2 separate regions of the Homo sapiens genome follow, and region 1 is linked to region 2. Evidence: fine-mapped expression QTL. A gene starts in region 2. The other region holds a variant in brackets. All regions are shown on one strand. Distances are between the middles of the regions. Region 1 has its middle 59 kb from the start of CASC2. Region 2 holds the start of RAB11FIP2 (RAB11 family interacting protein 2).

What was found. PIP is the estimated chance that this variant, and not a neighbour inherited with it, causes the effect. A credible set is the group of variants that fine-mapping cannot tell apart.
Region 1: its variant is the best candidate, but not a certain one, in a credible set for the expression of RAB11FIP2 in monocytes (Fairfax 2014, PIP 0.58).

The regions. Positions count from the first base shown.
Region 1 is chr10:117,985,545-117,989,943 of GRCh38, forward strand. No RefSeq gene overlaps it. Among named protein-coding and RNA genes, the nearest start is that of CASC2, 59 kb to the right of the region's middle. The variant A/G (reference allele first, on the strand shown) is at 2,163.
Region 2 is chr10:118,044,932-118,049,330 of GRCh38, forward strand. RAB11FIP2 (RAB11 family interacting protein 2) reads right to left here and starts at 2,010. Exons shown (of 5, transcript NM_014904.3): 1 at 880-2,010. The coding sequence starts at 1,232. It overlaps CASC2 (cancer susceptibility 2), which reads left to right and starts at 1,890. Exons shown (of 4, transcript NR_026940.1): 1 at 1,890-2,172. RefSeq lists a silencer at 1,448-1,937.

The DNA of each region.
Region 1 (4,399 bases), 59 kb before region 2:
AGGGATCCTGTCTCATTTATTTTGCAGGCATATGTGTGAGCAACTACCTTATCTGTGAAACAGAAACTTGGGGTTGTGATCTCCTCTTCTCTGAATGGCTGTCTTTACGATTATTTCTTCTCTTAATTTTCTTAAAACATATATGACTATTTAAACTGCAAATTATAATATTGTGAGGTTTATAACATATGTAAATGAAAAACATGACAATTGCAGCAAAAAGGATGGCAGTAAGGTAGTAAATGAATCAAAATAGTTGCAAGATTTCCATAATTTTTATGAAATTGTACAATATTAACTGTAAGTAGACTGTGCAAAGTAAAAAATGGATTTTGTAATCCCTAGAGCAATCACTAAGAATAAAAAATAAAAGTAAATAAACTGTGTATAGTGATATCTAAAAATTCAAAAGACAAATTATTACAATAATTCCAAAGAAGGCAGAAGCAGGGAAACAGAAGTAAAAAAGAGAGGTGACAATTAGAAAACAAATAAAATGGTAGGCCTAATTCTAACCATACTGATAATTACATTAAACTTTAATGCATTAAACTTCCACTTAAAGGCAGGTATTATCAAAGCAGATTAAAAAAGAGAAGACCCAACTATGTTCTATGTGCTTCACTTATGTTAACTCATTTAATTCTCATCACAATCCTGTAAGGCCATCCCATTATCAATCTCACTGTATAGATGAAAAAATGGGGGCTCTGAAACGGGAAGTAACTTGCCCAAGCTTACCCAGCTAGCGAGGGGCAGAGATGGTTTTGAACCCAAGGAATGGGGCTCCAGAAACTACTAGTCTGCCTCACAAGAAAATTAAGAAAGAAAAACAAGTAAATCCGGAAAAAAGAGAGAAAGGAAAATAGAAAGAAGGAAGGAAGGGTTAAGTCTGGGAAAAACAAAACATTAGTACAAAAAGGTCATTGTAATCCTAGTATTCTACTTGGCTCAGTAGATGATAAGCTACATTTGTAGAATAATAGTACAAAAAGGTAACTGTAATCCTGGTATTCTACTTGGCTCAGTAGATGATGAGCTACATTTGTAGAATAATACTAATTAAAACATTAACAGTGAATTTAATCTACGATTGTGGTATCCCTATATTTTGAGAAAGGGAGAGAGGGAGGAGAATGGAAGTATAAGATAAAATTGACTTCATCCTGCACAATAGGGAATTAATGGCAAATGTCTAAAAGTGATGATCCAACAGTGTGCACTATAATTGTGAGAAATGGAGATAAATATCAGAAGAAATGAATGAAGCTTCTGGAGAGCTAAAACAGGGTTGGGCAGTGGGTAAGGAGGGCACGGGACTATTATTTTTAATTTTTTGCCTTACAGTGATTTGAAACATTTAAAATTATATGCATGCATTCCTTTGATAAAAATGCTTTTGAGAAAAAGAAAAAAAAAAAGACTTGCATCAGCAATCAAAGGTATGTTGAATAGCCCAGTTCAATTTGCTGAGAATAAAACAAAGGTGGTAATTTTGCTATTAAATGCTGTCTTAGGCAGGGTTCTACAGAGAAACAGAACTAATCAGATATACATATAGAGAAAAAGAGATTTATTATAGGCTCACATGATTACAAAGGCTAAGAAGTCTCAGGATCTGAGGTTGGCAAGCTGGATCTCAGGAGACCTATCAGTGTAGTTCCAGATTGAGTTTGAAGGCTTGAGAACCAGGAGAGCAGACAGTGTAAGTTCCAGTCTGAAGGCAGGAGATGATCAATGCTCCAGCTCAAGGACCAGGCAGGCAAAGTTCCTCTTACTCAGCTTTTTGTTCTGTTCAGGTCTGTAATCAATTGGCTAAGGCCCACTCACATAAGGAAGGACAACCTGCTTTCCACAGAATACTGATTCAAATGTTATCTTGGCCCCAGAAACACCCTCACAGATACAGTCAGAATAATGTTTGACCAAATATGCAGACACCCACTGACTCAGTCAAGTTGACACATAAAATTAACCATGACACATACTATTAAGAGTTTACATATATTTTATGTGCAAATTCCCCTATTCAAAGTACTGTACAGATTTCCAATATTCCTAATTTCATCTTCATTTTCACTAAAATTGCTCATTGTCATAGTTATTTTTTGAAATGTTTTTAAATAATATAAAATTATTTTAAAATTAAAAATTACTTTAAA[A/G]TTATTTTAAAATTAAATAATAAAATAAAACAATATAAATAAAAGAGAACACTATAGATGGTTACAGCCCTGTTGCTACCCTCCCCAGCCCTGCTCTCCTGTCTTTCTCAAGAGGCTATGCATCCATCCAGACTTTATACATTCATGAAAAAATACCTTGTATTGTTTTGTATATTCTTTTCAATAGTCAAAAATACTACCATATTACACGTCATTCTGCAGCATGCTTTTGCAATCAGTGACACATTTTTGAGATCTCTCTAATTGATTATTGCTCTCGAGAAAAAAGCCTGCTGTCAGGGAATTCTCCCAAATTTTCATATCTTGTTCGCATTTCCCCTCTCAACCCCTCCTGTTTTCATTATTCCTCCTTCTTTTCTCTATTTCCATACTTTGAGTGATCTCATCTGGTCCCACATCTTTACCATTCATGTCAGTGTTGCCCAACTGTTTATCCTCTAACCTTGACCTCTCCCTAGAACTCCACACTCACATAAGTGCTGTCTGTTTAATTTCACCACCTGGATATGTAATGGGCATCTGAAACATGTCGTGGTGGAAAGGGGGCTCTGAATTTGCCCCACCCTGCTCCTGTCTTGCCTCTCCCATTTCAGCAAAAGGCCCAATCCTTGCCTCAACCACTTGATCTGGTAGAACCAAATTTCTGAGAGGATGAGAGATAGCGAGGGCAGGTGACCACTGTATCAACCAGTATCCGATTAGGGGCCAGGCAGGAAATGGAACAGGAGAATCATCTGGTTCAGCTCACCGTGCAAAGGAAAGTGTGAGCCTATCCTCCTCCTTTTTCAGGGCAGAAAGGATAAGGACTATGGTGACCAGCAGACTTCAGGCTCTTTAGGGATGGGGCAAGCCGCCAAGCACAAATGGGGATTGCTGTCTTCAGCCCAAGCTTGTTGGATCTTCTTAGAGTAGCTGAAGACCTGCATTTTAAGTATTGGCAACTAATTCAAGCCACTTTTATGTACTGCATAGACCAAACAAAACATATCTGAGGGCCTGATTTTGCCCATGTGTCACTATCTTGCAACACCTTCTGTGTGTGTGTGTGTGTGTGTGTGTGTGTGTGTGTGTATTATACATTTGGGGGAGGGACAGCACTTGAAATGTAGAGATTTGAATCCATCCTACCACATTCATAGTACACTATTAGCATCGTTCTCTGCATGGCGTCCCTTTTTTGTACTTTTTAATTACATTTTATTTATTTCCTTCTATCATCATTTCTACTCCCATCATGTGCCTGCCCTGCCATATGCAACCATTCCAGTTGACTGGGATCTTTTGTTTGTATGTGTCCTTGTAAAATGCATACTGTCATTTCGTATGCAAATATTGTTAATTTACATAAACTGTGCTATTCTAGAAATCTCATTCAACTTTTTCCCTTTTTTTTGTGGCTAGGACTTTTTTCAAGTCATTTTATCTGGAGGGGTGTGTGTGTGTGTGTGTGTATGTGTACAGGGTATGCCTGGACTGTGTTTTACCTGCCCACTCTCCCCAGTTGCTTCCAGGTCCTACTATGAAAAACTTGTACCAGTCCTTTAGGAACCTGTCTAAGCATCTGTCTGGGGTATACCTCGAAATACAGGATTGCTGGGCCATAAGGTGCGTACTGTGCACAGCGCTGCCTTCCCATCTCACCAGCAGTGTAGGAAGGCGCCTATATTCCTATATCCCCACCAACACTTGGCATCATCCAGCTTTCTTCTTCTTTCCTGCCCAATGGAAAGTGATATTTCATTGCTCTAAGAATCCAAGGTGTACTTCCAGAATTAACATACTTTTTCTTGAGAACCTCAGAAGACTTCAAAAACTCTTTGTGTTCATCTTCAGACCTGAAAGGTAGGTGATTCTCTCCATTTTATTGGTGACTCATACACACCAAAAGGCAAGGCCCAAATCTTTCTTCCCAGTGGGTACTTTGAGACCTTACCTGTTAAATTCTATGACTTCCAACTCCTGGCAAGGAGGAAGGGTTGAGGACTGCCTTTCTTCTTGCTATATTCCTTCATGAATTCACCTCAGTTTTCTAATCATTGGAATATACTTCTTGAATGGAAATAAAAGACATGCTTGGTAGTATGGTGTTTTGTCAAGTCCCAAAATGAAAGTCACATAAACAGAAATCCCAAGCATAGTCTGTAGAGTGAATCTTCTCAAATGACTTTTTTAAAGAAAGAAAAAGTCACAGTCCTAATGTGAGCTGAAATACATTC
Region 2 (4,399 bases):
GAAGGGGTGAGTATACTTAACTCTAAAAACATATTTTTTTTCAATTTAAGACACAATATCCTAGTGTTAATTTATATTATGATTTTTTAAATTAAAATGTATCTAACTCAAGCTCAAAAGTCATACTGAAAAGACCACTGAAGATGTTATCAAATCATTTCATCACAAAAATTTATCATTCTCTCCATCCTACAGCATTTAATATGGTCTAAACACAATAGCTTTGGAAAATCAATTCTGAATACAATAACTCTGATGTAATTGCAAATTCAAAGGAAAATGTAAGTGCATTCGAAGTTGAGGATGTCTGTACATACTTTTAAAACTTTTTTTTTTTCTAACAGGTATAGACTCCCATCAAGGCACACTGACCCTGAAAAATGGCTGAGCTAAAATAAAAGCTGTGTTTATAACGCTGAAACGAAATACTGAGTTCTAAATCTGGTGATTTATCTTTTGACAGCTACAAAGTGCGACACATCAACATTACATTGCCAGATTTAATTTCTCATCTTCCATTTCATTGATAATTGTAAGGTTTAAAATCCATAACAATTTATATGAAGTTCTAGTTGGTCAATACTGTGATCCAGTCCTCATACTGAAACAATGTTAACTTACTTAAAATCCACCACAAAATATTCAATTATTTGACAGATGTTTAACAGAAAGAATAAGGGATCATTAATGATTCCATTTAAAAAATATTTCATCACGAGTGCTACTTTTACTTCAGATTCATGCAAATATGGTGCTTAAAACTGGATCATATTTCAATCCAAAAACCAACGCCCGAAGTATACGGATAATTTCCAAGAACAGAAAAACCATAAATAAGATATAAACTCCCCCAAATTCAAAATAAATTACATAACTTACTCTGTTTTCCTTCTTTGTTTGTCCTCAAAGATGTCATTGAGATTGATTGCCACCTGCCCTAAAAATTTATCCAGACCCACCAGGGACCTGTGCATAACTATAAGGAAAAGAATGTATTTCTCTGGACTTCCCTGAATTAGCAATCCAGGTAGCTCGAAAGAGGCCTCCTCCTTCCAAACTGGCTCAAGGGTTTTCTCAGCTACAGAGGTGGAGTACTTTTCCTTGCCCAGCTGAATTATAGTGTATGTGTCATTGGTACCACTTTTGCCTTTTGGCTTCAGATCTTTGGCTTGGAGCACTGTGACCTGCACGTGGGTTGGAAACCACTTTTGGGCTTGCTCGGACAGCATCATCCTGTCCTGTTTCTCTGCCCCCGAGTTCCCTAGCACAGGCAGTGCCCCTCCCGGAGGGAGAGCCTAATTCCTTAATCACTGCATCCTAAGGACACTTAACGGAAACAGGCAGGCTCAGGGCTCCCCGACTTCCCTATGGCTGATGTCAAAACGCCTCGCGGGGGCAGCCCAGGGGCACGGCCGCTCCGGGGGTCCCCTTTCGTCTGGAGAAACACAGAGGCCCACCATCACCTGGCCGCGCCGTGCAGGCCTCTGCGCGGACCCCCGCCCCTGTCTCCACCTTCCCCAGGCCTGCGGGGCACGTGAGGCCTGGCCACACGGACCCGGGCGGAGGGCTGCGGGGGTGAAGGGAGCCCCCGCCCCAATTCTGCACCCCTGGCCTCCCGCCTGCCTCCTTGCGGCCGAGCAGCCTCCGCTGCCTCCGCGCCTCCCGCCCGCCCGGCGTTCGTCCGCAGGCTCGGCCCGGCTCCTCCTCCCGACCCCGGTAATACGAACCGCCGGCGGCTAACGCGGCCTCGCTCCCTCTCGCAAACCTCTCCCTCCTCCTCCTCCCCCTCGCCTCAGCTCCTCCTCTCGGGCGGGAGCGGGTAGCCAGGGGTGGAGTGGGGGAGGGCGGGGAACGCGGCCGCCCCGGCGCCGGCGGGACGTGGGGCGGGCAGCGGGCTGCAGGGCTGCGGGCGCTTGGTTCGGCCTGGCCCGGCCGGCGGCTCCTAACACCGGGCGGGCGGCTGCGGCGGCACTTCCGGGTTGGCCTTCTCCATGTTGGTCTCGGGAACGTGAAGGGGCGGGGCCTCGAGGTCAGGGGTCAGCACCTCCCTGGTTGCCGTGGCGACTGGAGGCGCGCGACGCGGGCGCAATGGCGGGGACCCGGGGCTTGATGCTGCTTGGGCCTGGCCCAGTGGCGGGTCCTAGGGACGTGGGTACCTGCAGAGGCCGGCAGGTGAGCCCTGGGGAGGGCTGGGGACCGCTCGTGAGAGGAGGTCATCAAAGACCCGGAGACGCCCCTAACTAGGGCGTCTTTGAGGGCAGGGGATCTGTGTTCGCTGTGTCCTGGATGCCCAGTGCCTGGCAGGAGCAGGTCCATAAATGGTGTTGGAACGAATCAGGCCTCTTCACTGACCGAAAGGAAACTTTTCTCCAATCTCCTATCCACCCTTCTCTTTTTGAAAAGTCCGTAAATTGACTGAAAATGACATCCCCCACCCAGACGAAGGGCGATAGGGAAGCAAATAGTTTCCACAGGGAGTAGAGATGTAGGGAGGCACTGGGCTGGCATCAGAAGACCTGGTTCCGGCCGCGCCTCTGCCGCTATCAGTGTGTGTGACCTTGGCCGAGTCATTTCACCTCCATGAGCCTCAGTGTTTTCACGAGTAAAAAAGCCAGTTCTACCTCATGTCTAAGACTCCATCACGACTCTATGGGCTCGACGTCAAAAGGACCCCCGTGGGGACTCACACTGTGGTGGACTGTGCAAATCATGTGGAGACCATGCCCCAAACACGGGTTTCGAGTTTCAGGGGATAATACATGTGCCTTTCCTAGCACAATGCGGCACATAAATCTCCTTTTGCCCCTCTATTTCTCAATTGGAAGAGACGCTTATGTACCACCCCATTGCTGTTAATTCTGTTCGTGTCTTACCTTCCCAAGGAAATTCTAAGTTTTGGGACTGCCTTGTCTATCATGCAGTCCCTTCATAGTGGCTAGCATGCAGCAGACAATTTACTGAATTACTTAATGCCTTTTTTCCCTTTACAAGACTAATTTTGAGAGTAAAACAATATGATACATGTAAATGCACGTTTTTTTAACTTAAATGGCCATAAACATGTAAAGTATCGTGTTTATTATTTTCAAGCAAGGTTTAAAACTTCTCATTCAAGGCAGAATTTTTCATCCCTGGGAGACAGTGTATGAAAAGGCCATGTGTGGAAAACAGAACAAAATCATCGTACTGCGAATATAGCATCTGGATCCCAGAGTGCACAGTTGTCAACTTTAAAGAAAAATATTCTTAGGGATTTTTAAACAGTACGTTGGAACAGTCAATGGTGGAATTTCACCAGGATCTCTAAGGAGAAATAATTTGACACCTGAAACTTACAAAAACCAAATAAACATCATGAAATCAAATTTAATTAAGTTTAGAGTTCTTATACATTTTAAAAGTCTTCATGTCTCTATTAAAGGTTGTAATTAAACAATAGAAAATTATAATAGTGGATGTGTATTTCTGAAGAGCTTAAATTGGTAAGCTTTATTAATGATTATAAACTTGTTTACAAATATAATTTCACTCATCTCTGAAATATAGCCATCTCTAGGGTAGAAGTTGGCAGCAGTAGTTCACAGCAACTCAATAACATACTCCAACACAACTCAGAGAATACTCTAAAGGCAAGAGCTGAACAATTGGAATTACTAACCTCTCTTTCTGTAGCACCTAAATTTCTTTTGAGTTTTCCCAACAGCTGGCTAGAGCCAAAATTGTTTAGTTTTACTGGTGAAATCAGAAATTATGACTTAAAATTTTTTAAGCCAGAATAAGAAAATAACATATTTTTGCCCCCGGGGAAAGCAAATAAACAAACAAACCAAATGAGCTAAATAGAATCTGGGATTGCATTATAATAAGGAAATGACTTCCTATAGAATGTTTTCCTTTTTTGATTATATTAAGAGAATAAAAATATGACAGTGGAGTCAAAGATATGGTTGGCTTATAGTGAAAAATAATGACAATTACATAAGATCTGGGATCAAAGTGCTTCTCCCAAAATGTTTATTGTTTTACAGTTTTAAAAATTCTTTTGACTAATTCTAAGATATACATGGACAACAATTTAAAAAGGAAAGGATTGCGTGTGTAAGGACAACATACCAGAATTGAAGAGAGTCACTTTTTAAAAAATTATCCTATGACTAATGATACATCCGGAAATGTATGGTACAATTCCAAAATCAAAGTCTTGGGAAAATAATATATTTTAGAAGGAAAATGCTGAACATTCTAATTTTAAACTGTTAACAATGCCTACAGCAATGAATAAGAATGCTTTGACCAGAAAGTTAAAATAGTCAATATTTATTCCCCATGAGTAGAGGATTTCACAGATGAAAATATTTACTACATGTTGCCCCTTTCAGTCCCATAAAGAATAAGTCCC